Homo sapiens: one gene and its partners. The protein of the gene in region 1 purifies or fractionates together with the protein of each later gene. This does not show direct contact. Each region holds a gene or a part of one and is shown in the gene's direction. Other genes may lie near its edges.

Region 1 (7,020 bases):
AGACCCTGAAGCATCCTGACCTCCGTGTGACACGCCAGGTCTGCAGGCAGTGCTTGTCGGGCCCTGCCTCTGCCTTTCCTGTCAGGTTCAGGGCTCCCGAGAGCCACCTGGACACGCTGTCTTCAGCTCTCTGATGCATGACCAGCCTCACCCGCCTCCACATTTGGTGGAGGGACCTGTGGGCATGGTCATGATTTGGCCGGCAGCCTGGATGGTCCAGGCTCTGACCCAGTGGGAGGAATGACAGCACATGGCTGCGCCATGGAGGAATTAGCAGGAAGGGCGGAATCAGTCTGTGCTGCCCCGTGGGCAGGTGACGGCCAGCACGTGACTGCCCCCAGGCTCTCCACCCTTTTGCAGGGAGGAAGGGAGGTGGACAGGTGTGGGGCTCCAGGGCAGGCTGCTTCCAGGAGTGGCACTGAAGTTGAGACTGGAAGGAAGTACCGGCCAGCAGGGCTTGGAAGGGGCTGCTGGCCATGCTCCTGGGCACTCCTGATTCTGGGCTGCTCAGCATCCACTTCAGGAGGATGCAAACCTGGGGCTCTAATGGGGCTCTGGCCAGCTTGAGTCTGTGGTGACCTGGTGTCCACATGTGACCCACACCCCAGCCCTCGTGGGTCCCCAGAGGGGTCCAGCCTGTCAACTGGATACCTGCTTTGGGCCCCCTGGGCCCAGCCCTGCCCTCGTGGGACTTCCAGGCTAGATGGGGACAGACAGACAACAGTGAAATAGACAAGCCAACAAGTGTGCCAATGCAAATGGGGTCGTTGGCTCTGCAGGAGTGGAGGACAGTTCTAGAGGGGGTGTGGTGGAGGGGGCTGAGCCGCCCTGGGCAGCTCTCTGGAGAAGGGATGCTTGAGCCGAGGTTCAGAAGATGAACCAGATAGCTGTAAGAGGAGGGCTTTTCTAGGGAGAGACCACGGGGGCCAGGAGCTTCAGGGAGCTCACAGAAGGCCACTCTGGTGGGGTGTGGAAAGCAGGGGGCAGGCTAGGGGCCCTTGTAGAGGCTGAGGCCAGTCGCTCATCACCCCAACCCCACCTGGATGGACCTCCGTCCCCAGGGAGGCCTCGATGCTGCAGGGGGGCCTCTATGTGACCTGGAGGAGGCGGAGAGGATTTGGTGTGCGCCTCAGCCGCCATCCTGGGGTTGACAAAGTGCCTGTAGCTGGAATGCTGGAATTCTTTTTTTTTTTTTTTTTTTTTTTGAGATGGAGTTTCGCTCTTGTTGCCCAGGCTGGAGTGCAATGGCATGATCTCAGCTCACTGCAACCTGCGCCTCCCGGGTTCAGGCGATTCTGTTGCCTCAGCCTCCCAAGTAGCTGGGATTACAGGCATGTGCCACCATGCCCGGCTAATTTTGTATTTTTAATAGAGACAGGGTTTCACCATGTTGGTCAGGCTGGTCTCAAATTCCTGACCTCAAGTGATGAGCCCGCCTCGGCCTCCCAGAGTGCTGGGATTACAGGTATGAGCCACTGCGCCCGGTCTGTAGCTGGAATTCTTCAGGAAGGGCTAGAGCAGGAACAGAGCCCTGGGGGTGGGAGCTGGTCCCCCCGAGGTCCCCTGGGACAGTCCCTTCCCAGAGGCTGCCTGTGAGACCTTGGTGTCATGTGTGGGATGTGCCTTCTGAGCCCAGGGTCTAGGAGATGGGATACCCTAAACCAGGGCCCCTGGAAACTGGGCTCTCTCTTGGTGACTGGGACTTGTGATTCGTCTGTCAACCCTAGGTTTCAAATTAAGTCCCAGCCAGTGACCACATCAGATTTCCAGTTTTTTTCTTTTTTTCTGAGACAGGGTCTTGCTCTGTCACCCAGGCTAGAGTGCAGTGGTGCGATCTCAGCTGACTGCAACCTCGACCTCCTGGGCTCAAACGATGCTCCCGCCTGAGCCTCCCGAGTAGCTGGGACCACAGGCGTGTGCCACTATATCCAGTTAGGTTTCCAGTTTTAAAGTATTTCACTTTGTCCTGCTAGCCAACCTTATAGCCTGTGTCTTGTTTAGAATAATGATGTTGCTCTCTGAAGGGTGAAAATTCTCAGATTTTGGTTGTAATTGAAAATTTTCCTGACATTTATGAAGTGTTAATTGTATTATGGACCACAAGAGGCTCTCCCAGACAGCATTCTCTTCTTTTTGTTGTTACGTCTAATGCTTTTATAATCAACCTACTTAGTTGTTTAAAGTCATTGTTGATTGCTGTTAGGAGTTTCTTCAGATTTCTAACACAGCAATTAAGCCATGAGCAGCCAGGATCTGGCCGTGGCAGCAGTGGCCAAGGTGGGCCTTCATGGGCAACACCAAGAGCATGTTTTTGGAGCCTGGGCGGAGTGGCTCACACCTAATTATAATCCCAGCAATTTGGGAGGCCGAGGCAGTTGGATCACTTGAGGCCAGGAGTTCTAGACCAGCCTGGTCAACAAGACAAAACCTCATCTCTACAAAAGATACAAAAATCAGCCGTGCATGGTGGTGCACGCCTGTAATCCCAGCTATTTAAGTGACAGGTGTGACAGTCGCTTAAACCTGGGAGACAGAGGTTGCAGTGAGCCATGATGGCACCACTGCCCTCCAGCCTGGGCAATAGAGCGAGACTCCATCTCAAAAACAAAAACACGTTTTCTGTTGCTCCTCAAAACTAAGAGCCAGTGTTCAAAGACCCCTGGAACCTGCCCTCCTCCAGGCACCACGCTCATGGGTGGCCCCCGTGTGTGACACCGTGGCCACAGGGAAGTTCTTGTTGGTTTCTGCTCATGGAAAGGGCTTGTTCCTGCTTTTTGGCCTGTGACTCCCAAGTGTTATACACAATTGTTGGTGAGGGATGTGGGCTGGGCATTGTGAGGAAGGAGGCAGAGATGCTGGGAGACCCTCAGGTCTGACCTGTTGAAACTTCTAGCTCCTTAGCTGGGGCCTGACCCATGGCCTGCCCTCCTCCCGGGGTGCGTCTTGTGACTGCGGGCGCTTTGCATGGGACTCTGTACCTTACAGCTCACGTAATGCCTGCTGGCGCTGACCACACAGCTCCTTCCTCCTCTCCCAGCACTGGCACGAAGTGCTCCCTGTAAGTATGAAGTTGAATGTAGCATGGATCGTTCTGATACTTTTTAACATGGAATAACCGCTCTTGCCTCTGGCCTGCTAACCGCCCTCCAACAGCCACCACCTGGCCGCTTTCTCACTCTGGGTCTCTAAACCTGCCTTGTGAGGCTGGTCTCGGTGCAGCTAGGACACTGGGGGTTCCAGAGGCCACATTAAAAAGTCCCCGAAGCCAGATATATTTCCTGGGGAGCAAGTCCCAGCAGCCAGAGTCGGGCAGGGATATCCTTGAGCCTGGCCCAGAATAGAGGCCACGCTGGGCCGCCTGGGAGGGCATTCTGACCGCAGGGCAGCACTTGCCCCGGAAGTCCCCGGGGGTTTCTGCAGCCTGGTGGCCAGTGACATCGATGGTGACACCTTCCCGGGGCCCCAGGTCAGCTCTTGGCTTGAGTCCTTCCATCCCGTAGCTATCCCCCAGGCAGGGTGTCTCATGCCTGCCTATAGGGAAGAGCTGAGCTCCCTGAGATTAAGGGATTATGTTGAGGCCAGGTAGGAGGATGGAGCCCAGGCCGGGGAGGGTGGTGGGGGCAGAAGAGCAGCTCTGGGTCAGGAAGCTTCTGCCAGGATGGACTGTCGTGCCCTGGGGAGCGTGGGGCGTACAGAGAGGTTGGTTAGGGTTGAGGGGGAGAGAGGGACATGGGAACAATGTATGGGAACTGGTGACTTTGGACTTTGTCATGATTCACAGAGAAATGGGGCTGGTGCTTTGAGCATGGAGGACTCTGGCCAAGGGGTGTGGCATCCAGCAGCCCAGAGGAGGAAGCTTTGGTCCCGTGGGCGAGACCAGTGGGGCCAGAAGGGAGGCTTGGCATGCAGTCACATAAGATTCAATCCCACCAAGGGGCACGGGCAGCTGCCCTGTGTCACTGGAGCCCCTGAGGGTGGGAATGGCTGTGGAAGGTGATACAAGGTTCTGTCTTGGTGCTTGGAGCAGTGTAGTGGGGCAGCTGTGGCTCCGGTGGGCACCAGCAAGGCCAATGAATGGACAGTGCAGTTTGCAGATTTGGCCCTGACCTAAGGAAGGGCAGAGCCAGCCGACACCCACAGCTCCTGGAAGGCAGTCTGCGGCCTCCCCCGTGGGGGCACAGTGGCTCTGAAGCCTTTCAGCAGGTGCTGCCACTCCCGGCCAGGAGAGAGCCCGCCTGGGCGGGGGCTTGAACTCATGGCCACCAAAATCCTTCAGTGCTGAATTTTAGCGTAGATAAACCTGCTCACTAGAAAGATAAACATTCATGGGCAACTAACGACACATTCTAATATTCTGTTATTTGAACATCTGGTAGTCAGCCAAGCCACTGCTTCCCCTAACCAAGTGTCTGCCTGCTGACCACAGAAACGCCAGTGTCCCCCGCCCAGCCGTGGGGTGGAGGCCGCCCTGACCCCCGCCCTCCCTTCTCCACAGGCTGCGTCATCACCATCTCGGGACGCATGACCTTCACGAGCAATAAGTCCATGGAGATCGAGGTGTTGGTGGACGCCGACCCTGTTGTGGACAGCTCTCAGAAGCGCTACCGGGCCGCCAGTGCCTTCTTCACCTACGTGTCGCTGAGCCAGGAAGGCAGGTCGCTGCCTGTGCCCCAGCTGGTGGTGAGTGCGCATCCTTGGAACGGCGGCCCCTCCCTGCCAGGCAGCCCTAGGGTCCCTGTGTTTGGGCCTCCAGGGGGAATCTGTGCCTGCATGAGTCCTGTCCTGTCAGTAGGGGTCAGAGTAGGGCTGGGCCTGGCCACTGCCGTGACCGGTGACCTCGGGCTGCGGGGCTGATCCGGTGAGGCCTTGAGAAGGAACGCTTCATAACCAGCGGGTAGGCCTTTGGGCTGTACTCCCAGGGCCCGTGGGGTGGGGCTGGGCAGACAGGACAAGAGAGACAGACCCCTTTAAGAGCGCCTTAGCATGGCTGCTGCCTGGGCGTCCAGGTCGCCTCTGAGTGTGGCGCCTTGGTGTTCCCTGGCATTGTGTAAGAATGCTGGAGGGGGATGAGGACCGTGCCCTGGGTCCCCCATCCTCTGCTGAAGGGCCTGCTGGGAAGCTGGAGGGGTGGGCTCCCTCCAGGTGGTCCTGGCCTGCAGGTCCTGCCTGATGAGACCAAGCCAGGCTGGTGGGCTCTGGGCTGAGGGTCCCAGCCCCTTGGCCTTTCTCCTCCTCATGCAGGGCAGGTGGGGTGGGCGTGTGCAGGCCACACGCACTCGTTCACAGGGGCTGCTGCCCCCAGGTGTCCACATCCCCTGAGCTCTGCCACGTTTGAGAGCTGGTGGTTCTCCGCCTGGCATGGACTCTGTAGGGTCACAGACATCGACAGGGTTCGCGCGGCCCAAAGAGGCAGCTTCCCTGTCTCTGTCATAAGAACAGAGGTTCCCCATCCTGGCTGACCCCAGGGGCTCTGCAGCCTTTGGGGTGGTCCTGATTTCTCTTTGAACCAGCTCTTGTGTCTGTCACTGAGGGGAGCAAGAGGAAAGCAGAGCTGTAGGAGCTTCCTGCCCCTCCGGGGAGCGAGGATGCGGGAACAGAGCAGCTGGGAGCAGGCGGGTGCCCGCAGGCCTCTTGGGAGCTGGCGTTCTCATGGAAGTGGCCAGGCAGGCACCACGGCCCTGCGAGGCTGACCCCTGATTCCAGAGGTTCTCGAGGCCCCTGCCCCCGCGGCGTCTGCTCCCCACGCAGATCCGCAAGCATTTGCTGCTCAGCCTCCCGGAGAGGAGCGTGCACTGAAATCTCTGGGGCGAACATGCACTGAAAACCCATTCCTCTCAGAGCCTGGAGCACGGCCTGTCGCTTCCCCACATGGCTGAGGAGGGCCGCCGAGTCGCCCCAGCTGCTTTGTTTCCCAGTCGAGGCTGAGGCCCCTCCAAGCCCCTCTCCCAGCCCTGCCCCTTCCTGGAGTGGAGGAGCTCATGCCTCACCAGGGCCCGTGGTGGTAGCGCCAGGTGTGGTGTGTGAGCTGTCAGGCCCAGCGAGTACCCTCCGCTGCCAACTCCAGGCCAGCTCTTCGCTGGAGTTGGGTGCCGGCCTCTCCCAGGTCGGGTGGGCTGAGTAGAGGAGCTGATGGTGAACCTGGACTTGATGGATGAGGAGGACTCGGCCAGGCTGAAAGGAAGGAAAGTGAGTGGTGGGTGCCCCCAGCACGGCACTAACACAATGCCTGTGACCCACCCTTGCATGACTCTCGTGACCAGGCCCCTCTTTGACTTGGGGCTTACGAGGCATGCTCCCCTTCTGGTGCGAGGACTGCTCCATGCCTTCAGCCCCACAGCCTCTTCTGTGGCAAAGTACCCTAGGCTGCCACCCTCCTGCCCCATCAGGGCTGGCTCTGCTGCCTGCTCCTTCCTCCCTCATCTGCCCCCACCCCTCCCCATTTACTTGTAAGCCTACCCGCCTTGCCCTGGCCCACCGTGCCACCCATCGGCCCTTGGCAGGATGGTGTCCTCCCTCCACGTCGCCTGGGCTGGTCCGCAGTCGTTCCTCAGCCCCTGACCCTGCTATGAGGCTCCAGCCTCCTCTGTCCTTGACCTTCAGCCCTGTGTCTGGTTCTCCTTTCACCTTGGACACGCCTTCTCCAAACTTGCCTGCTTTTCTCGGCCATGAAGTATGGGCTCCACTCCCACCTGGGCCCGCTCTGGTCTCTCCCCATGGACCCGACGCCCCTCCCATGACGCTTTTCAGCGTGGCTGCTGTCTGTCCTGATGCTGAATCCCCCACCTGACCCAGGCACATTTCCGAAGCTCTCTCCTTCCCCGCCCCCTACCTCTTCCTGCCTCCTGGACAAACTTTCCCAGTTCTGTCTTCCCTCTGCGGGCAGCATGGACAGACGCAAGGACACGCCCTGTCTGCTGTCCGCTCCCTGTCTGTAGCACAGCTGACCAGGCCCTCAGTGAAGCCTGCGCTCCCTGGATGGGGGACCCTGTAGTGTCTGTAGGGATACTCCAGCCTCCCCGG
Region 2 (8,006 bases), on another chromosome or scaffold:
TTCTGCCTTGGGATGCTGTTAATCTATAACCTTACCCCCAACCCTGTGCTCTCTGAAACGTGTGCTGTGTCAACTCAGGGTTAAATGGATTAAGGGTGGTGCTAGATGTGCTTTGTTAAACAGATATTTGAAGGCAGCATGCTCGTTAAGAGTCATCACCACTCCCTAATCTCAAGTACCCAGGGACACAAACACTGCGGAAGGCCGCAGGGACCTCTGCCTAGGAAAACTAGAGACCTTTGTTCATGTGTTTATCGGCTGTCCTTCTCTCCACTATTATCCTATGACCCTGCCACATCCCCCTCTCTGAGAAACACCCAAGAATGATCAATAAATACTAAAACAAACAAACAAAAAAAACTTCATTTCATGAAGATGAAGGAAGGGCTGGCTGCCCTGAGGCAAAGGTGTGCGCAGGAGAGTGGCTTCTTTTTATTTTATTTAATTTATTTTTTGAGACAGAGGTTTTGCTCTTGTTGCTCAGGCTGAAGTGCAATGGCGTGATCTTGGCTCACTGCAACCTCTGCCTCCTGGGTTTAAGCGATTCTCCTGTCTCACCCTCCTGAGTAGCTGGGATTACAGACACGTGCCAACACGCCCAGCTGATTTTTGTATTTTTAGTAGAGACGGGGTTTCACCATGTTGGCCAGGTTAGTCTTGAACTCCTGACCTCAGGTGATCCGTCCTCCTCAGCCTCCTAAAGTGCTGGGATTACAGGCATGAACCACCACATCCAGTCTCTTGAACAAAATCAGGATTCTGTTAGAAAAGAGAAGGTAATATGGCCATTGGGCAGGGAGCTAGGAGTGTTTGGTATTAATACCCTCCATCTCACCCACTCTCTCTCAGTAAATGACATACCATTCAACTCAACCAGTTCTTGTAGCCAGAAACCTGGGACTCATCCTCAGATCTCCACCTCTCTCCTCTTCCACACTATTCAATCAATAATTCCATTGATTCTACCTTGAACACAGCTCTGTAATCAGCCTTCTCTTTTGCCGCCCAAGTTCAGGAAACCACCATCACCTTTCATCTGGGGCCCTGCAGTGGACTGCATTGGTCTCCCTGCCTCTAGTCTTACTAAACCTCAATCCAAGTTCTAAGCTGCTGATAGTACCTTTTCTTAATGCAATTCTGATCATGTTATTTTCCCATTAAAAACCCTTCTTAAGTTTCCCATTGCTCTTAGGAGAAAGTTCAATCCTCATATCGTGCCTTCCAAGGCTTTCTAGCTTTTGGCCCTGACTATTTCTCTAGTCTCACCGCTTTCTTTTTTTTTTTTTTTTTTTTTTGAGACGGAGTCTTGCTTTGTTGCCAGGCTGGAGTGCAGTGGTGTGATCTCAGCTCACTGCAACCTCTGCCTTCTGGGTTCAAGAGATTCTCCTGCCTCAGCCTCCTGAGTAGCTGGGATTACAGGTGCGTGCCACCACATCCAGCTTATTTTTGTATATTTTTAAATAGAGACGGGTTTCACCATGTTGGTCAGGCTGGTCTCGAACTCCTGAGCTCGTGATCCGCCGGCCTTGGCCTCCCAAAGTGTTGGGATTACAGGCATGAGCCACCGCGCCCGGCCTAGTCTCACCTAACCGTTTTCTGGCTTTTGCCTTGTCCCCTTTGCCTTATTAATTCCATGTCATCATTCAGATTGCAGGTTACAGGTCACTTCCTTGAAGAGGTTTTCTGCTCCCATAATGTAATGCCCTGTACTTCCTATATCATTCTACTCACCCAAATTTATTATAATTATTTGTTGAAGTCTGTCTTTCTTCTAGACTATAAGTTCTGACTATAAGGCCTAGTAGGGCTACATCCCTACCCACCTATCACAGAGCATGACCACAGTAAGTGTTAAATAAGAGTTAGTTATAGATTTGAAAGTTTTCATGTTATAGGACCTCTAGGTGGTAGCTGACGCCAGAGATATACATGAGATAATCTAGACAAAGAGTATTGCTCTAGAGAGAGAGAGAGAACATGAGAAATAAGAAAGACAATGATGATTAAGATGATGAAATGAAGGCTGAGAAGGAGAATGAGAAATGAGTAGCAAAGAAGTAGGAATGGGCCGGGCGTGGTGGCTCATGCCTGTAATCCCAGCACTTTGGGAGGCCGAGGCAGGCAGATCACGAGGTCAGGGCTTCGAGACCAGTTTGGCCAACATGGTGAAACCCGGTCTCTACTAAAGGTACAAAAAATTAGCTGGGCGTGGTGGCAGGCGCCTGTAATCCCAGCTACTCTGGAGGCTGAGGCGGGAGAATTGCTTGAACCCGAGAGGCGGAGGTTGCAGTGAGCCGAGATCGCACCACCGCACTCCAGCCTGGGCGACAGAGCGAGACCCCATCTCAAAAAAAAAAAAAAAAGAAGTAGGAAGAACACGAGAAGAGAATGTAGTCGTGGCCTGGCACCGTGTCTCACGCCTGTAATCCCAACACTCTGGGAGGCTGAGGTGGGCAGATCATTTGAGGCCAGGAGTTCGAGGCTAGCCTGGCCAACATGATGAAAACACATCTCTACTAAAAATACTAAAATTAGCCAGGCATGGTGGTGCATGCCTGTGATCCCAGCTACTCAGGAGGCTGAGGTACAAGAATCACTTGAACCTGGGAGGTGGAGGTTGCAGTGAGCCGAAATCACACCACTGTACTCCAGCCTGGGTGACAGAGTGAGACTCTGTCTCAAAAAAGAAAAAAAAAAAAAAGAAGAGAATGTAGTCGCAAGCCAAAGAAGGAAATTAGAGACACCCAACAGGGTCACCCACAGCAAAGGGGACAGGATATGGACTGAAAAGTGCCACTAGATTTGGTCACTGAGTGAGAAAGATAATATTTGAGAAGAGATGGACTCCTTCTTTGTCAAACTAATGTACTTAAGAAGGTATTTTCCACCTTTACATTAATTCCTCTACCTATCCGTCCAGCAAAGATTCACTAAACATCTACTCTAGGCTGTGTACTGTGCTAGGCCCTAGGGAGACATGGTAGACCAAGGTCCTTTTGGGCCTATGGGCTCACTACACTTGCCTGCAAAGGAAAGTTACAATTCACCAGGGCTGGGTGTTTTACCAGACCTGATAATGACTGGCTCTCTGAATACATTCGATGAAACAAGAGCCAGTGTGCAAGTCTGGAGGTCAGTGAGACTTTATTATCTTGCTCTGAGCTGGCAGGAGGCAAAGGGAAAGTGTATGTAGAACATTATTATTGCATCACTGCTGTCTTCTTAAGTCAGTCACAGATGAGAGTCTGGGTTTTTCCAAGAAAATTGGTTCCATCTGCTCAAAGGCAGAAAAGTGATAGAGCAGTTCAATCAAAAGAGCATCCCCTTAAAATATTCTTTGAACTTGATCCTACTTTTTTTTCTGAAACAGAGTCTCGCTCTGTCACCCAGGCTGGAATGCACTGGCGTGATCTCAACTCACCGCAACCTCCGCCTCTCGGGATCAAGTGTTCTCCTGCCTCAGTCTCCCGAGTAGCTGGGATTACAGGCGCGTGCAACCACGCCCAGCTAATTTTTGTATTTTTACTAGGGACAGGGTTTCACTGTGTTGGCCAGGCTGGTTTCCAACTCCTGACGTCGGGTAATCCGCCCACCTCGGCCTCCCAAAGTGCTGGGATTGAAGGCGTAAGTCACCGCGCCTGGCCTTGACCCTAATTATTGACTAAACTATTGCTTCGCTAATTTTTTTTCCTGCCCTTCTGTTTTAACAGCAGTAAAACAGTGTGGTGAAATGTTCAAAAAATCAGTGAATCACAGCCTTCTGAAAATTAATGGGTGTCAGTGAGGTTTGGGAGTTGGATGGAGACAAAGGGAGCGACACCATAACTAACTGGAGATCTTACTAGGTTTTCATTTAATATTCATTTTTTACAATAGACATTGTTTGGAAAAAAGGGTTTAATTCAAAATGTCATTAAGGCACATTATCTTTAATGTTCTAGAAAAAGTTATTTAAAGAAATCCTGGCCATGAAATTAAAATAAATAAATAAATAAAACCAGGCATTCTTTGAAATGTGAATAATAATTTGCTAATTTATATTTAGGATTGTGGATATACTTTTTTTCTTTTACATGTATTCCTGGGGAGGTAAGTGATGCAAATATTTTCCCACTGCCTCAATCAGACTTTAGTTTTTGGGGTCTGGCCTGATATGATGGAATATAAACAGGAAATCAAGATCAGAAGAGCCTGTCCCTGAGAACACTCCTTCACGGGACTCTAGCTCACGCCTGGACCTTCCCAGTGCTTCCATCTGAAGCCCCTGGAGACCCAGGTGGGTTAAGTAGGGTGGCAGGGGGGATGGAGGGGGCGGGGGGCGCGGGGGCGTAAATCCTCCCCCACTGGGGAGGGTGACAGTAACAACTTCCAGATTGTTTACAAAGATACAGGCTCTGCTTCAGGCATTTGACGTGTATTAACTCGGGTAATCATCCCAGTAACTCATGAAATAGTTATATTATTATCTTCACTTCCCAGATAAGCAACGGAGTGAGAGAGATTATAGAAAGTGGAGAAGCGAGTACCTTACTAGTAGCCACTAGGGGTGTCAGTAATATGGCTCAACTTTGTTACGACGGATCAGAAAAATGCTCACCTTTAAGACCGCAAGCAGAGCCTGTCTGGGGAAGCAGGTGACTTATCAACGCCTTTTGAGATAAGGAATAGGACTGCGGGGAGGAGTGTGTGAGAATCAAAGGTGAGTTCCCTGTGTGCGTGGTCGGCGGTCAACTCCTAGCTAGTCCAAGCTTAGAGCCTGCGCATTTGCCCTCCCGGGTCAGAGCCCAAAGCCGAAGGAACAGAACCAGCGCCGGCGGCAGCCACGTGGCCCAGCCTCTGAGCCCTAGCTGCCATCGCGGAGGCTGGGCCCGAGGGGCGGGGCTGGGGAGTGCGGACACCCGGGCCTGGCGGAGTGCGCCTGCGCACGGGGTTGGCCCGGCGGGGGTGGGAACACTAGCAGAGCCGCGTTAAAGGCGCTCCCCGCCCCGCCCGCCGGTCCAGTGCTCGCAGTGCGCAGGCGTGGGGCTCTCTCCTTGTCAGTCGGCGCCGCGTGCGGGCTGGTGGCTCTGTGGCAGCGGCGGCGGCAGGACTCCGGCACTATGAGCGGCTTCAGCACCGAGGAGCGCGCCGCGCCCTTCTCCCTGGAGTACCGAGTCTTCCTCAGTGAGTGTCTGCGGCCCGTGGCCCCTCCGCGCCCGTCCGCCCATTCATTCCCGGGCCTTGCCTCCCCGGGAGGGTGCGGCCCGCGCTCGGCCCCAGGTCTCCGACGCGGGCCCGTCTCCTCGGGCGCGTTGTGGGGCCTGGCCGGCCTCACATTGCATACTTGCCGCCGCCGGTCGGGGCGGCGAGGGTCGCCTCCGGCCATCCCTCCCCGCTGAACGGAGATGGTCCCTTTGTCACGCCTCGGGGTACCCGAACCTGGGCCCAGCTAGTTTTGCAGGTGTCTGGCTCTGACAGGGTCTGTTGGGAAAAGGAAATCACCGACCCACCCTAGAAAGGTGCTTGGAAGTAACATAATTCCCGTAAGAGGATTGCTCAGTTTGGAGAAAAGGCGACTCCGGGCCGGGGGGGGCAGTGACTTCCTAAAGACCTTAATTCCGCCGCCGTAGCTCAGATTATCGGCGCTGAGCGGAGCCAAGTCCACCCCCTCGTTTTACAGACGGGAAAACTGAGGCCCGGATCGGGAGCCGTCTGTGAAGGCGCTGGACCGGTCCTCCGCGGCCCGGTCGTGCTCCTGCCTCTGCGCCGCCTGTTTTCCCTCAGCGCCGATGCTGGGAATGCTCCTTATGAAACAGAAAGCTGTTTCCCTCAAATCAAACAGATGACGTCAGTCTGGAAACAAGACTGAGAAAGTGCCAAGTTTTTACCTTTGCAGGATTCGGCGTCTAGGGGGTACCTACCCCGGGTCCTGCACCTAGGGCTGCACGGGGAAACCGGGAGGCTGCATGCTGGCGCCCTCCACGCTCCTTAGGGCACCACGTTTTTTTGGCCTTGTAGGTGGAGGAAAGCTACTTGGGGTTTTTCTTTATCCTCTTACTCCCCCCACCCCCAGCTACTAGGAGTAGATTATGGGCGATAACGGAGGCGTTCGTAAATGTGTCACCACAGGCGCTTCTATTGTAACCTCTTTACAGTTTTATTTGGAAGGAAATGGGCAGGTGCCTCGAACTCTGAGTTGGTGTATGAAGGAAGGGGAAGCGGGGAGTAGAGGAGACGAATGAATAGGCATTGAAGGAACAAAAAGTAGCCTGGTGCGGGAGGAAAAGGAAAGCGAACTGTAAAGCTTACACATCTAGCCAAAGGTTAACTATCAGGTAAAATCCAGGAAGGGTGAGAACTACCCCCCACTCTCCATTTTATTTAATTTTGCAATTAAGCAGCAAGGACAGTCCAGTAACTTTTGACTAATAATTCATGGGACTGTTTTTCTGGAAATAGTGTTGGCTCCAGAATTTCTCTGTAGGAAAGGCTTACAGAGGTGACTGTCTGGTTTGAAGGTGAGGGGTGGATCTTCAAGCTATATATGCAGAACAAACACACTGCTTTTACTTAGGTTATTTATTTGCAATTAATATTTGGTGGCCGTTATGGGAGACCAAAGCTACTCCTAGAATTTGGCACTAGCTGAAGTAACTGTTTTTATCAAGTGGAACTCTCTGGAACTTAAGAAATACTAATAATTAGAACCCACTACATAGTTATCCAATTTTAAGTGCTTTATCCTTCCTTAATAGAAATAAACTTTTTTAAGCTTTATAATATTACATTTGTCAATTTCTTTAAAACTGATAAAGGGCTGGACAGACTGCAAAGTCACAATTGGCCCTAAAGGGACTTTTATGTTTTATTGTTTGTTTTTTGAAACAAAGTCTCGCTCTGTTGCCCAGGCTGGAGTGCAGTGGCATGATCTTGGCTCATTGCAACTTCAGCCTCCCGGGTTCAAGTGATTCTCCTGCCTCAGCCTCCCAAGTAGCTGGGATTACAGGCACTTGCCACCATGCCTGACTAATTTTTGTATTTTTAGTAGAGACGGGGTTTCACCATGTTGGCCAGGCTGGTCTTGAACTCCTTACCTCCAGTGATCCACCTGCTTTGGCCTTCCAAAGTGCTGGGATTACAGGCGTGAGCCACCGTGCCTGGCCTCCACTTTGATTTTTAAACTTGAAGGGATGCGATGTGGACAGTAGGTTTCCTAAAGAATACTGAAGAAGTTTTAAAATTACTTTTTGGCTATAGTTAGGCCTCTAGAATATATTAGTAATATATATCTAGAATATAATAGAAATTATTTGTGAAGATGTTTGTTGCAACTTGATTATCCTTAAAGAAAGTCATAATCTAAGATGGCTGGCTGTCTCTGGGAACACCACTTTTAGCAACATTGTTTAGTAAAGTGGTCCCCTCCCTTCCTCCCAAGTACTTCATAATGGTTCTGTAAACTTAACTGATGTAAGATCAGTCCAAAACAATTTAATCGCCTTTTGTGTCCTCAGTAGTCTCTGCTCTCACTATAGAGATTAGTACTTATTAGATGCCTACAGAGTGCATAGGATGTAAACCCAGCCTAGCCTGGGAGTACAGTCAGGAGAAGTGAAGTATACAAACAGTTTTTCTAGTGTAAGAATAATATCTTGGTTTAAAAATGTGTACTGGTCGGGTGCAGGGTGCGGTGGCTCACCCCTGTAATTCCAGCCCTTTGGGAGGCTGAGGTGGGCAGACTGCTTTGAGCTCAGGAGTTGGAGACCAGCCTGGGGAACATGGCAACACCACCTCCCTACAAAAGACACAAAAATTAGCCAGACGTAGTGGCTCATGCCTGTAGTTCCAGCGGCTCAGGAGGCTGAGGCTGGAGGATCACTTGAGCCTTCAAGAGGGAAACAGAAGTGGCAGTGAGCCAAGATCACACCATTGCACACCATCCTGGGTGACAGAGTAAGGGACCTTATCTCAGAAAAAAAAAATGTGTACTGTGGGCATTTAGCAATACAATTAATTATAGTAATAAC
Region 3 (7,020 bases), on another chromosome or scaffold:
GAGCTCTTTTCTCCTTTGAGACCTAGTTGGAAGGGCAGAGATAGGGTCTCTGAAAGGAATAGTGAATGACACCTGTATTTTTTGGGGAAACTTCATTGAACAAGAGTTCCATTATAATCATTTTCTCTTCACAAGTAACCTCTTCCATAACAGCAGGAATTTTACATGAGTTTAGATCATTCCTCTATGGGAGGGATTTGGTTCAGAAGTGCAGTTGATTGGAAGTACTCATAAGTGAGTTTCTTGGGGTTTGGTAAAGAGTTTCCTTATTTGGTAAATACATTTTGGCAATCTAAGCCTTTGAGTCTTTGGAGCTATGAGTGTGTGCGTGCTGGGAGGATTTTTCTGAGTATGGGAAGAGTTTGTCATGGCTGTTGTGTTTGTTCCCTAGACACGGGCATGTGTTGTACATACTCAGAACCTCTGGGCAACTTTACTGGAGCCCACATGTTATTTCTCTTCATGGTTTATTGGATTTAACAAGTTATAAAGTAGTCGTCTAATCAAATGGTTGGGTATCATGCAGAAAACACTAGAGCTGAGCCGGCTTGCAGATTTCACCTACCAGCGTGAAACAACCTAGCATAATGATTAGAGTGCGAACTTGAGCCAGACTGCTTGGGTTCACAGCCTTGCTCTACCATTAACTGTAGACGAGCAACTGAACCCTCTGCTTCAGTTTCCTCAACTGCAAAATGAGGATCACAATAGACTACCTTGTAGAGTGGGATGACTGAATGAGTTAGTGGATGTGAAGTGGTAGAACATAGGTAACACTGGGTAAGTGTTGTTAAATCGTTGCCACTAGTGTCATTGACTGATTAATTAGCTGGGAGGGTTGCCTGGGACATTGTTTTAAGACAGATTCTACAGACAGGTTTGGGCTCAGCAGAAATCAGAATTTGATCAGTAAGAGCTGCCATGCCACAGATGTGGGAGGGGCTAGTGGCACCTGAGTCTCATGGCTTAATCTGTGTTTGGGTTGATAAAGCCCAATGGCAAGACCCACGGGGCTGAATCCATCTTTCAATAGATATGGAGGCCACATTTGCAGAGTATGAAGAATGGTCAGAAGACCCAATACCAGAGTCAGTAATTCAGAACTATAACAAAGCACTACAGCAGCTGGAGAAATATAAACCCTATGAAGAAGCACTGGTAAGTGTTGGCTTCTTTTATAGTAAACGTCTCTCTACAAACCTTTCCCTGATGGATAGTTGCGAGTTAAACAGTATCTTTAAAATGTTTTATTCTGAAATATATAGAGTGTATAAATGTATACGTACAGTTTACATACTAATAATAAAGTGAACATCCATGTACCTACCACCCAGGTTAAGAAATAGAACATTGCCAGTACCTTAGAAGTCTCCTATGTGCCCCTCTCCGATTGCCTCCTCCTCCCTCTCCCGAGAGGTAATCACTTTCCTGACTTTTGTGATGATAATTCCCTTGCTTTTCTTTATAGTTTTACAAGCTATGAAAGTATCCTTAATTAATATATTGTTTAATTTTGCTTGCTTTTGAACTTTTATATATTGGAATCATGCTGTATATTTTATTTTCATTGAACATGCTTTTGGGTTTTACTCATGTTGCTAAGTATAACTCCGGTGCATTTGTTTTCACTGCTGTAAAGTTGTCTGTGTACTGCGATGTATTTATCCATGTTGCTGGATAGTTGGGTCATTTCCAGGTTTTTGCTAGGAGAAGGAGCAGCGCCACTCTGAACATTCTTGTGTGTATCTCCTTGTACACATGAAAAAGAGTTTCTCTAGAATACGTACTTAGGAATGACTTTGCTGGATCATAGGGTGATGTTAAAGTGTTTTCCAGGTTATCAGTTTGCACTGCTGTGAGCAGTATCTGAGAGTTCTCGTTGCTTGTGCCAATCTTGGATATTGGTCATACTTAAATTTTACTTAATTTGATGAATTTGAAATTGTAGTTTTAATTTGTATTTTCTTGGTTACTAATGAAGTTGAGCATCTTTTCACGTGGATTGGCCATTCAAATTTTTGTGCGTGTTAAAGTGTTCAGGCTGGGCACAGTGGCTTATGCCTATAATCCCAGCACTTTGGGAGGCCAAGGCGGGAGGATTGCTGGAGCCCAGGAGTTTGAGATCAGCCTGGCAGCGTAGCACAACCCTGTCTCTACCAAAAAAAAAAAAAAAAAAAAAAAAAAAAAGCCGGGCTTGGTGGCATGTGTCTGTAGTCCCAGCTTCTCCAGAGGCGAAGGTAGGAGGATTGTTTGAGCCCAGGAGGTCAAGGCTGCAGTGAGCTGTAATCATGCCACTGCATTGTCACCTAAGTGACAAAGCAAAACCCTATTTCTTAAAAAAAAGTCTGGGCCGGGCGGGGTGGCTCATGCCTGTAATCCCAGCACTTTCGGAGCCCAAGGCAGGTGAATCATGAGGTCAGGAGTTTGAGACCAGCCTGGCCAACATAGTGAAACCCCGTCTCTACTAAAAATACAAAAAATTAGCTGGGCATGGTGGCGGGCGCCTGTAATCCCAGCTGTTTGGGAGGCTGAGGCAGGGGAATCGCTTGAAGCCGGGAGGTGGAGGTTGCTGTGAGCCGAGATCGCACCACTGCACTCCATCCAGCCTGGGCAACAGTGTGAGACTCCGTCTCAAAAAAAAAAGTCTTTGACCCATTTCCCTTTTGATGTATCTTTTTTCTAATTGATTTGTGGGAGTGCTTTGTCTTAAGTCTTATTTTAGGCTGTATGTGTTGCAGATTTTCTCCCCAGTTGTTTGTCTTTTCACTTCTTTTTTTTTGAGACTGGAGTTTCGCTTTCACCCAGGCTGGAGTGAAGTGGCGTGATCTCGGCTCACTGCAACTTCCGCCCCGCCAGGTTCAAGCGATTCTCCTGCCTCAGCCTCCCAATTAGCTGGGATTATAGGCCCTTGTCACCAAGCCCCGCTAATTTTTGTATTTTTAGTAGAGACGGGGTTTCGCCATGTTGGCCAGGCTGGTCTCATACTCCTGACCTCAGGTGATTCACCTGCCTCAGCCTCCCAAAGGGCTGGGATTACAGGCGTGAGTCACTGCAACTGCCTTTTCACTTTTTTATTTTTTAACAGTGTCTTTTGATGAACAGTTCTTAGTGATCAATTAGATTAAAATTCTTTCCCTTTTGGTTGTGCTTTTGTTGTGCTTATTTAAAAAATATTCCCTACTTAGCTCTAATTTCTTCTAAAAGTTTTATAGTTTTCTGTTTCATATTTAGGCCCTCATCCACCTGGGATTGATTTTTGAGTGGTATGAGACTGCGTCTGGTTTCATTTTTCCATATGGAGAACCAGTTGTTCTAGTACTGAGTTTGATCATTCCTTCTTCCCCTCACTGATGTGCAGTGCCACATCTGTCATAGATTAGCTGTCCATTTATGTGTGGGTCTTTCTTCTGGATTTTCTGTTCTGTCCCACTGGTTTATGTTACACTGTTGTAATGATGAGAGTTATAATGTTTTGCTCTTGGATAGGGTGAGTCCCATCCACCTTTTTCCTCTTCAAGAGGATCTTGGCTTTTTTTTTTTTTTTGCCTTCAATGCTTCCATCGGATTTAGAATCAGCTTTTCTAGTTATATTTTTAAAATCTTTTTTTTTTTAATTGGAATTGCATTGAACCTGGAGATCAATTTGGGGAATAATTTACATCTTCCAATCTATGAACATATATAGGTTTCTGCTACTTATATCTTGTCTTTCTGTAAAGCTTTATAATAATATTATAAATTTGTCCAGTGTCTTCAACACTTGACCTTTAGAGTCCCCTGCAAGGGAGATTTGCTGGTAACAGATTTTCTGTGTTCAAAAAGGTCTTTGCTTCCCTTCTTGAAAATTATTTTCTTAGGCTATAGAATTCTAGACCGACAACAGCAAAAGAATTCTAGACGGACAATGTGTCCTCTCAGCAATTGATTGTATCTTTCTGTCTTCTGATGTCTGTTGTTGCTGTTGAGAAGTCAGCGGTTTGTATAAATCTTGCTTCTTCAGAGGTAGTCACTTTTTTGTCTGACTGCTTTTAAGATCTCATTGATTTGGTTTGCTGTCCTCTAATTTCACTGCAGTAGGTCCATGTGTGGACTGGCTTGAAGTTTTTTGGGCTTCTTGACTCTTTTTTTCTATCTTTCTTTGCCAACAATAGGATTGTGAAGGTCAGATTCTTAATATACGTCAAGCCAGCAAAAGGTTAATGTTTACTTAGCTTGCCACCCTCATTTAGATTTTGTCCTTAGTCCTTAGTATTTCTTGTTTCTTTGCCAGTTTGTTGATGACTTTTAAGAAGATATTATATTTAATTTAGCAGTTTTAGTTGTTTTGAATGGTACAGTGTGTCTGGGTAACTAATTCTTCCTCGTTACTGGAAATGGAGGCCCTGAAACATCCCCTTTCTACATATGGAGTCTGTGTGTTCTCTTACTCTCCTGCACTGCTTCATCCTTTCTTTTTCATGTGTAAATGATTTGCATGTACCTGTGCTTCCCAAAACTTCGATCATTCAATTATGTCATGGCCATCAGCAAAATGTGCCTGAAGAGAAAACATGTCGAATAAGATTTTTTTCTAAAAAGAATTTGATTGTATGTCTTTGGATCATTAAACATTCAGCACAGCTGCCTTCATCTTCTGCATTTATCTACATTCTTCCAGGAACTGATATTTGGAATAAGAAACCTGAAATAGCATCAGGCACCAAAATTTTCCAGTTTGGTTGTATTAACTCTACTCAGTAGCCCAAGAACATGACTTCTGGTTTGGAAGGGTGGTTGACAGTGGTCACTGGCAAAGGTGTTGCTCTTTCACTCAGTTCCTGATTGATGGGCTACTTAATTCCCTGTGGTCTAGGAATGGATTTAGAAAAGAGTTTATGGAGCCTTTGTAGCGACTGCCATGAACTGGCACTTTGGACCAGATGAGAAGACTCTTGTTTTGCTCAAGAAGTTGTAGAGGCCATAGTGGAGTGGTTCTGAGAGTGAGGATTTGGCGATTCATAGTTACTGTAGCCAGTTTTGCCAAAATTTATTTTATTTGCAGATGTGTTGTGCTTCCTGCCAGTAACTAAATTCAATACAATTTTCCTGTACTCCAGTTGCAGGCAGAGGCACCAAGGCTGGCAGAATATCAAGCATATATCGATTTTGAGATGAAAATTGGCGATCCTGCTCGCATTCAGTTGATCTTTGAGCGCGCCCTGGTCGAGAACTGCCTTGTCCCAGACTTATGGATCCGTTACAGTCAGTACCTAGTAAGATCACTGTTCTAATTTCATTTTATTTTTGCCAATTTAGAATCTACTTAAAATCAGTAAGAGTGCCAGGAGTTTGTTGCATACGGCCCTACTCTTGCTTTTCCTCCATCTGCTTTTTCTCCTCTTTGCCAACTCGTTTAGAAAGTTTTAGTGTTTCAAGTTATTTAAAAATGGTCACTAACTGTAAGTAAAATGAGCATATTGTCTGTGTTGAGGACTTATAACAACTTGATATTTTTCTTTTAACTTTTTATTATGGCAAAAATGTAAACATATAAAAGTAGACAGATCAGTAAAATGAAACTTCTGTACCCCTCACCCAGCTTCAACAATTAGTAACATTTATAGCTTTAGTTTACTTTGATCTGTAGTCTCACCTACTTGTCCCTTCTGTGTTACTTTGAAGCAAATCCAGAAATGATATTTCGTTGGTAAATATTTCAGTATGTGTATATAAAATATTTCAGTGTGTCTGTATAAAAGGATCCAAATGAGGTCTATCCAGTAGGGTTGGCTGACGTCTTTTAAGGCTGTTTTAACCTGTAAGTTGCTCCTCTCCTTCTCCTCCACTCCCCTTAGTGATTTTTTTGTTGTTGTTGAGGAAACCAGGTCACAAGAGATGTTTATAAGGACATTTCTTTCATCACTTGGTCGTGCTGGCAATGTCTTGTTGATGGTGAATGCTTAATAAAGTGTAATTTCCTAACTCTGGAATTCTTTATCATAGGATCGACAACTGAAAGTAAAGGATTTGGTTTTATCTGTACATAACCGCGCTATTAGAAACTGCCCCTGGACAGTTGCCTTATGGAGTCGGTACCTCTTGGCCATGGAGAGACATGGAGTTGATCATCAAGTAATTTCTGGTGCGGATGTTTTTGTGGGAGAACTTCTAAGCTATTTGTCCCAAGTGAAAAACAGAGAGCGGTGACAAAGTCATTACATCAGTGTTCCCTGGGGTTTTCTTTGGGTTATGGAGTGTAGTGACAAAAAGGGCTCTGAGTGAGAGATGAACTGGTTATATTTGTGGCTTCTTAGAGCTTTTTAACATGCTAATATTCATTGTATTTTCTAAGAAGTTGTAGTGTTTTCTCCAAACTTCCTTGATCTGGAACTTTTCTTGCAGGGCGTCTTGTGGAAGAAGTTTTTTCTAGAACACAGTCTGTAGAGTGCTGTAGCAACTTCTGTCTTCAACATTCCTGTCTAGCTCATTTCATTCTGTTGCATCTATTAGTCTTTAAAGTCATGTAGTGTTTTATAGTCAGTAGAATGTAGTGACTTTCTATTAGTTTCCATTTGAATTGGTAACAAATCCTGACTTTTCTCCAACTCCAGTAACCTTCGAGAAAGCTTTGAATGCCGGCTTCATCCAGGCCACTGATTATGTGGAGATTTGGCAGGCATACCTTGATTACCTGAGGAGAAGGGTTGATTTCAAACAAGGTATTTAAGCACATGTTTTTCACTTTAGAGCTGAACATGTTCTTAATACAACTTTTGGCGAGATGTCCCAGTTCCCCAGATACATTGTGATTGGGCAAATGATGTAGACTAGGTATTGGTGACTTTTTCCCCCAGAAATCTTAGCAATTTCTGTCTTTAACAAGTCATGATGTGGATTGTAAAGCAAGAGAGTAATCGTTTATACTGGCTCCTGCCAGCCTTTTTAGTCTTAGCTCTCATTTCTCCTTTCAGGTCTTTTTATTTATCCTAAATACTTCTTGAAATAAGTCTGCTGTGTTTTAGAAAAATCTTTGTACCTCTG
Region 4 (7,020 bases), on another chromosome or scaffold:
AGGCCACCCTGTGAGAGCTATAGTTAGACTCCTAGAATCTTGGCCTTGTAGCCCCCAGTGACCTCAGAGACTGTCTGGCTACCATGTGGTAAATGAAGCTGTGACCAGAGATGTCACCTGACTTGATTGTGGTCACACATCCAGATAGAAGGTGGCCTCTGGGTCTCCAGCTTGCCTTGACTCACAACTAGAGGCCTCAGTGGTGGTCGTGAGGTCAAGGGTCCACATGGGTCACGGGCCCTACCTGTGGATAACTTGGCCAGCCAGGAAGGGCCCGCTTCTCAGGTGTGCGTCAGGCCAGAGGGCGCTGCGCTCAGGCTGGGTGTCCGGTGGTCAGCATCCTTCATGCACATTCCAGGACTCTGCTTGGGGGAGTTAACACTCCATCAGCTCTGATCCAGGTGGAGTTCCTGGGGCCTCCCTGGGTCTTAGGCCAGGCCTGTCCAGGTGGTGGCAGGGCCAGACACAGGCTGTTACCCCAGCAGCCTTCCCCTCGGGGTGTGGGAGAGCCCAGCTCTCTCCCGGGGGACACTGTGGTCCTAGGCTTTGCTTCATGATTCCCTTGGGCCCCCTTTGTTTCCTTTTGTTTCCTTATCTTTGTTGTGCTTTGAATGGGGGCCGCTGGCTCTTCGTTGAGGACTGAGGGGGTGTCCGACCCAGCATGGCACAGGGTGCAAAGTCCCTGTCTCCTCTGAGTGGGCTTCTCCCTCTGCAGAGGGGGAATGCTGATCCACCCTCTCCAGGGTGGCTGGAGATGAGCCTCTCTGGGTTGCCCCTTCCTGGCTGCCACTAGCCCCTAACCGTGGTGCCGCCAGCAGACGCACTGCTTCCCTGCCTTCACCCCCATCCCCATCACAGCTCTAGATTCCAAAACATTGGGGGCCATGAGTGTCCTCCCATCCCTTCTTCCTGCCCTGGCTCTCACACATCAACTGCGGACCCCCCAAATTCCCCCACACATGCACACATGCCCAGAGAGCTCGGGAAGTGAGAGCTGGTGGAGACTGTCCCTGCTGGGAGATGTCCCGGGAGCTGGCACCTGCCATCTTGGCCTGACCCAGTATGCTCCTTTCATCAGAGCTTAGTCTGTTTGAAATGGACCAGATACAGGCTGGGTAACCCCTCTGCTTACAGTCAGCCCCATGGAGCCTCATCTTCTCCTTTGATTCTTGTCGCTTCCCTGAAGAGCTGAGGATGTGCCCTTTCTGGGGCAGAGACCCGGGCATATCAGTAAAGACCTGGGGAGGTGCCCCACACCTCCACAGCTGAACACCTTCCGCTCTTCCCCACCCACCCCCCAGGAGGAATCGGAGAAGCAGCTCTGTCTGATTGAGGCGCAGACCATGGAGGCCCTGCTGGCTCTGCTCCCAGAACTCTCTGTCTTGGCACAACAGGTAGGAGGGGAGGGTGGTTCCCGGGGACCTCACAGTTCTCAGGGAATGTCCCCGGGTCTCACCGAATGTGTTTCATTGCAGAATTACACCGAGTGGCTGCAGGATCTCAAAGAGAAAGGCCCCACGCTGCTGAAGCACCCGCCAGCTCCCGCGGAGCCCTCCTCGGTAAGTGTGGCTGCCTGGCAAGGCTCCTCTGTTGGGCTCCCCTGTCCCCAGGAAGAGGGGCTGCCCCAAGTCATTTCAACGGGAAGCCAAGAGAAGAACCTTTGTGTGTGGCTAACTAAACACCTGTTCTTCCCTCTCTCAGGACCTGGCCTCCAAGTTGAGGGAGGCCGAGGAGACGCAGAGCACACTGCAGGCCGAGTGTGACCAGTACCGCAGCATCCTGGCGGAGACGGTGAGCATTGGGAACCTGTCAGCTGGGCATCCCTGGGAGGCTGCAGGGAAGGAGAGCTTCGGGGCCTATGGGGCAGGAGGTGGCCTGGTGTTTTGGAAAAGCCCACTGGCCTTGTGACTCTGGGCCCCGTTCTTCGGCTGCATGGTAAATGGATGGCACCCTCTGAGGTCGTCATTGTTTCTAAGCTGAAGAGAAGGCCAAGTTGAAGGTTCGGGGCCGGTCTCTAAGCTGGGGAAGGGGAAGGACGGGGTAAGCAGCTGGTGACTGCCAGGTTGAACCCCGTTTGTGACTAAGAGCAATGCCAGGTCTAGCCCTGCCACTCTCTGGCCAGCCCATCCTGTGCTCCTCGTCCTGGGCCATTGACACACTTGGTGCTGGTGGCAAACCCCGGCAGTAACAAGCATCCTAGTGGTCCTGTGCAGGTCACAGACCTCATTTCCTTGCCTGGCACTGCAGCCACACTGGCCCACTGGCCAGAGGACCTCCCTCCCAGGACAGTGGTTGCCTTCCCTCCCCACCTAACGCTGGCGCTCATGAAGTCAGCAGGCGGAGCACGGCAGGTCACCAGGGCTGCAGGGACAGGAAGATGCGGTTGTGTGGTGCGGGTCTCGGGAGGGAGAGGGCCCTGCCTCACCTCGGTTTCCCCCCAGGAGGGCATGCTCAGAGACCTGCAGAAGAGCGTGGAGGAGGAGGAGCAGGTGTGGAGGGCCAAGGTGGGCGCCGCAGAGGAGGAGCTCCAGAAGGTATATGCAGCCCTGCCTGCCTCCCGGCGCCGTGGAGCACATGAAGCCCAGGGGAGAGTTGACAGGATTGTCTCTGTCACCTGTGAGACTCGTGTGTCTCGGTGGGGCTTTTCCACGACACCCTATGAAGCACAGTTGCGGGATGACAGCTCAGTCCGTCCTCCAGGAGGCCCCCGCCTAGGAAGACACTGCCAGATGGCGCCAGGGTGACCGTCCCAGCTGGGCGGAGTGGGCACCCCCGGGGCTTCCTAAGTTGGGTCAGTCCCGCTCGGGTCCTAGCATGGCCTCGGAAGGAGACACCCCCAGGTGCTCGTGTCTGACGGAGCCTTCCCCTTGCTTTGTAGTCCCGGGTCACAGTGAAGCATCTCGAAGAGATTGTAGAGAAGCTAAAAGGAGAACTTGAAAGTTCGGACCAGGTATGTGCTCTGCTCAGAGAACTCTTTCTCTTGTCCCGGGAGCCTCTTTGAAAGTGACGTTAATGCAGAGGACACTTCACTGATTTCTTCCTCATGGACCGTGTGCCTTAAGAGAGGCATTCTCTCTCAAGCCAAGGGATCTTGTCCATCCTGTTTTTCCTTAATGAGAGACATTGACTACCTCAGAGGACCCTGAGACCCAGCCACGGGCCCTGTGCAGACCTGCCCAGCCCTGGTGAACAGGGCTTCTGCCACGGCCTTCACAGTCAAGGTGGCCCCACTGCCCCCTTCAGACGCCACAGGGAGCCCTGGAGAAGGTACCCTTGGTACCTGCTTTTGCAAGTAAATCTAAGAGCATGTCAGTCCCCAGGAGTGCCCGGGTGCAGCCTGCCACTTTCCGTAAGGGGTTCTCTTGCCGCGGACTAGTTTCTCGTTTGCTTGGTAGCTGGTGGGCCTCAGGGATCTCCCGAGAGGCCTCACCTATCCCAGGGCCAGCCTGCTCCCTGAGGTGAGTGCCCTTTGAGCAGAGGCTGCTGGCGCATGCGTGTGCGTGTCTGTGCATCTGTCCAGGTGAGGGAGCACACGTCGCATTTGGAGGCAGAGCTGGAAAAGCACATGGCGGCCGCCAGCGCCGAGTGCCAGAACTACGCCAAGGAGGTGGCAGGGGTGAGTCTGCCCCCCAAGGAGTGCAGCCCCTGCCCAGCAGATCTGCGGTCCTCCCTGAGCTGCTTCTCCTCAGCCCTGTGGGAGCAGCTCTCGGTGACATAAGCCTTGAAGTCCGAGTCCTCAGGCGTTTGCCCGAAGCCTCACAGGCCCCTCGTTGGGCTGTCAGGCCTGAGGTGTCTCTCAGGGCAGGTTTCAAAAAGGCAGCCTCCCAGCCAGGACAGGGGCAGAGCCAGGCAGCCCTGCCCCGAGGGAGGCGTTTGACGTTCTAGGTTATCCCTCCGCAAGGGGATTCTCTGCCTGGCTTGCTGATGTCATATCTGGTGGGGAGTGGATTTAGATCTGACACTTTTTCTGCTCTTCAGAAGCAGAAGCACAAGCCCAGTATCCCAATTCTGGTTTAATCTCAAACTTTTGGGCCAGGCACAGCGGCTCATGCCTGTAATCCCAGCACTTTGAAAGGCTGAGGTGGATTGCTCGAGGCCAGAAATTTGAGACCGGCCTGGGCAACATAGCAAGACCGCATCTCTACCAAAAAAAAAAAAAAAAGCCAGGCACACTGGTGGGCACCTCCGTTCCCAGCTGCTTAGGAGGCTGATGCAGGAGGATTGCCTGAGCCCAAGAGTTCAAGACCAGCGTGGATGACAGATTGAGACCATCTCTGAAAAAAAAAATCATCTCCAACTTTTGGCCCTTTTTTGCCAGAGATAATCAGTAAACATTTGTGAAGGCCTGAAAGAGGTACGCAGTGAACACCATTCTTCCTAAGTCCTCAAAAAAGAAATCGTAGCTGTAGGAAGCCTGGCGAGCCCTGTGCCGGCCCGATGCTGTGACCCTCCTCAGGGTTTTGGTTAAGTGGATGTGTTAGGTTTTATGTTTCGGCGCTAACTCACGGGGACTGGTTTTCTCCTTTTCTCTCCTTTTTTCCCATCACCCGCCTCTGTTTTCTCCCCAAGCTGAGGCAACTTCTCCTAGAATCTCAATCTCAGCTCGATGCCGCCAAGAGCGAAGCCCAGAAACAGAGCGATGAGCTTGCCCTGGTAGGTGGCCTCCATGTCCCCATGCCAGGAGTGTGACCTGGGGCGTTGCGTGTGTGAGATGCATTTGCCAGTCATGCGTTTGTGTCCACTCAAAGATAAAGCCTAGGGAAGGGACAGTGTCACCCGTTGAGCAGCATGGGGCCGGCTTCTGGGGGCCTTCCTGCACATTTGCCCAGAACTCTGAGCTGGGCCTGTGGCTGTTGGGACCAGGGTGCTCCCACTCCATCTCCCGTCCCCTGGCTACCTGGTCCCCTGTTCAAGGTAGTGAGAGCTCTGGGCGTCTGCATTCCCTGTGAGCCCATTGTAGTCACCTGGGGGCGTCAGGGATATTGCAGTCCCTGGCATCACAAGACCAGGAAGCCTGGGGGTTCCTCCTGGCCTGGCCACCCATCGCCCTGGGGCTCTCAGCAAGTCCCGTGCCTTCTGTGGGTTTTCTCACCTCAGTGACAGCTCAGATCAATTCAGTCAAAGCCACAGGCATGCAGGGAAGACCTGCTCCACGCCCGGCCCCATACCAGCTGCCGGGTGCAGAGAGCAGCCCCCTTGGCAGACCACTGGAGCTCTGCCTGTGCAGGTGGCCTCTTGAGTCCCTCCTGGTGTTCAGCTCAGGTGTCTGATGCCAAGTCCCAGCTCCTTGGCAGGCTCCACCCAGCCTCACCGGATCTGGTACCGCCCCAAGGCTGGTGTTGTGAGCAGCACCCTGTGAGGCCGCAGACATGTTCTGTTTGATCTGCGGTGTTTTTTTAAATCTTGAATTAGTTGTCAACAGGGAGAAATTGGGAAATTTTAAATAAAAATGGGCTGGCATTCCCCCTGCAGCAGCCAGTGAGTCCGGCACACGCTCCCAACACCCTCGGTCCCCCTTGGTCATTCAGGTCTTACCCGGACCAGAACACCAGAGGGCAGTGCTGCCTAGGCCAGGTCTCCTCCTGTGTCTAGGGGCCACTCACTGAAGCCTTGGCTGAGCGAAGTCTGGGTGACAGGCCCCGGGGGCATGGCCCAGGCCGGGGATGTGCAGAGAAAACCCCCTGGAGTTTCTGTTGTCTTCCAGCTGTGCAGTTCGTTATTTGCATTGGGAGGGGCTGTTCAGAGGGAGGGAAGAATGTCTGGGGTTCCCACGTACCTGGGGTGGCCCCTCAGCGCAGGGTCAGAGACCGCCCATGTTCCCTGGGGAGCTTATGCCAAGGGCCCCACCTGGGTCTCCAATTGGAACCTCTACCTGAGCCTCTCGAGTGACACCTGCCCTTCAAATTGCAGGCCCAGTGGTTTGGGTGCAGCCAGATATGCCACCTAACCCCAGTGATGGAGCGTAGGGGTGGGGGACCTTGTTAGGCAAGAATGTTATCTCATAATCTTTTCTAGACCCCGGAAAGGGCTCTGAGCAGTGGACTGCATCCTTGAAGGAGAAACGGGGGGTGTAGACAGTGTGGCGGCCACCCCCCGGTTCCATTCGGATTCCTTTGCTCTGTGGGCCATGCCCATCAGGGGTCACCTCACTCCCAGGGAGGGCTCCCCTCCGGTTGGGCTTGGAGCAGAGCACATTGGGTCTCATTAGCCCAGAGGCTTGGTGGCCTTGGTTTGGCTCAGGTTGGCGGCGGGGGTGGCCAGACATAGGTCACAGTTACCAAGCCAGGTCCCCTGAAGGGACTTTGGCTGTTGAGAGCAGCTACGGTCCTCCGAGGGGGTCCCTGCAGGAGTGAGCATGGTGGGTGTGCGACTGGCTGTGCATTTGCAAACACACCCCTTCCTGTTCCAGGTCAGGCAGCAGTTGAGTGAAATGAAGAGCCACGTAGAGGATGGTGACATAGCTGGGGCCCCAGCTTCCTCCCCAGAGGCGCCCCCAGCCGAGCAGGACCCCGTTCAGGTTAGGGCGGTGAGCTGGTCCCCAGACACATCACTAATCCCAGAAGAGTGCAGGCCCTGCTGCCTCCGTTCGGACTAAACCCCGCACTGGCTGCTCCAGCCTCCGCTGCTTCCCCACCCCACCCTGCTTTGCCCCATTTGGATCATCCAGGTTCGGAGAAAGCCACAGAGCATGGAACAGAAAGGTGGCCAGGTGGAGAGGCTGGAGGAGTTGGGGGGAGGTGGGACTCGAAGAGGGAGTCCGTGATTTGGGGTCTGCACCTACAGGGCTCAGGAGCAGCTCTGGGCAGGGTCTGCAGCCATCGAAGGGGACTGTCTCCCACTGCAACCCCGGCTGGGACATCGCTAGCAGGATATTCGCTCTCCAGAGTTTTGAGCCCGGCAATAGCCACCAAGAGTCCTCACCAAGAGGCAGGGCCTGTCCCTGGGGTGGCCATGGTGTGGCTGTTAAGGGGGTTGTCATGGGGCCAGGGCTCGGAGGCATCGTTCTTGTCCTGTGAGTCT

The links.
Region 2: the proteins of ACOT7 (region 1) and PPA1 purify together in Homo sapiens (affinity purification with mass spectrometry; 2 studies listed by BioGRID, with this or other methods). This does not show direct contact.
Region 3: the proteins of ACOT7 (region 1) and SART3 purify together in Homo sapiens (affinity purification with mass spectrometry; 2 studies listed by BioGRID). This does not show direct contact.
Region 4: the proteins of ACOT7 (region 1) and RRBP1 purify together in Homo sapiens (affinity purification with mass spectrometry; 2 studies listed by BioGRID, with this or other methods). This does not show direct contact.

What each region holds. Positions count from the first base shown.
Region 1 is NC_000001.11:6,278,762-6,285,781, reverse strand, and holds part of ACOT7 (cytosolic acyl coenzyme A thioester hydrolase), read left to right. Parts: intron 1-4,495; coding exon 4,496-4,680; intron 4,681-7,020. UniProt on the Homo sapiens protein: Catalyzes the hydrolysis of acyl-CoAs into free fatty acids and coenzyme A (CoASH), regulating their respective intracellular levels.
Region 2 is NC_000010.11:70,230,421-70,238,426, reverse strand, and holds the start of PPA1 (inorganic pyrophosphatase), read left to right. Parts: upstream 1-4,997; 5' UTR 4,998-5,099; coding exon 5,100-5,163; intron 5,164-8,006.
Region 3 is NC_000012.12:108,537,166-108,544,185, reverse strand, and holds part of SART3 (spliceosome associated factor 3, U4/U6 recycling protein), read left to right. Parts: intron 1-1,033; coding exon 1,034-1,158; intron 1,159-1,341; exon of another isoform or gene 1,342-1,374; coding exon of another isoform or gene 1,375-1,416; intron 1,417-5,096; coding exon 5,097-5,252; intron 5,253-5,982; coding exon 5,983-6,121; intron 6,122-6,590; coding exon 6,591-6,698; intron 6,699-7,020. UniProt on the Homo sapiens protein: U6 snRNP-binding protein that functions as a recycling factor of the splicing machinery. Promotes the initial reassembly of U4 and U6 snRNPs following their ejection from the spliceosome during its maturation.
Region 4 is NC_000020.11:17,616,229-17,623,248, reverse strand, and holds part of RRBP1 (ribosome-binding protein 1), read left to right. Parts: intron 1-1,301; coding exon 1,302-1,394; intron 1,395-1,475; coding exon 1,476-1,559; intron 1,560-1,701; coding exon 1,702-1,791; intron 1,792-2,441; coding exon 2,442-2,534; intron 2,535-2,878; coding exon 2,879-2,950; intron 2,951-3,520; coding exon 3,521-3,616; intron 3,617-4,569; coding exon 4,570-4,653; intron 4,654-6,409; coding exon 6,410-6,517; intron 6,518-7,020. UniProt on the Homo sapiens protein: Acts as a ribosome receptor and mediates interaction between the ribosome and the endoplasmic reticulum membrane.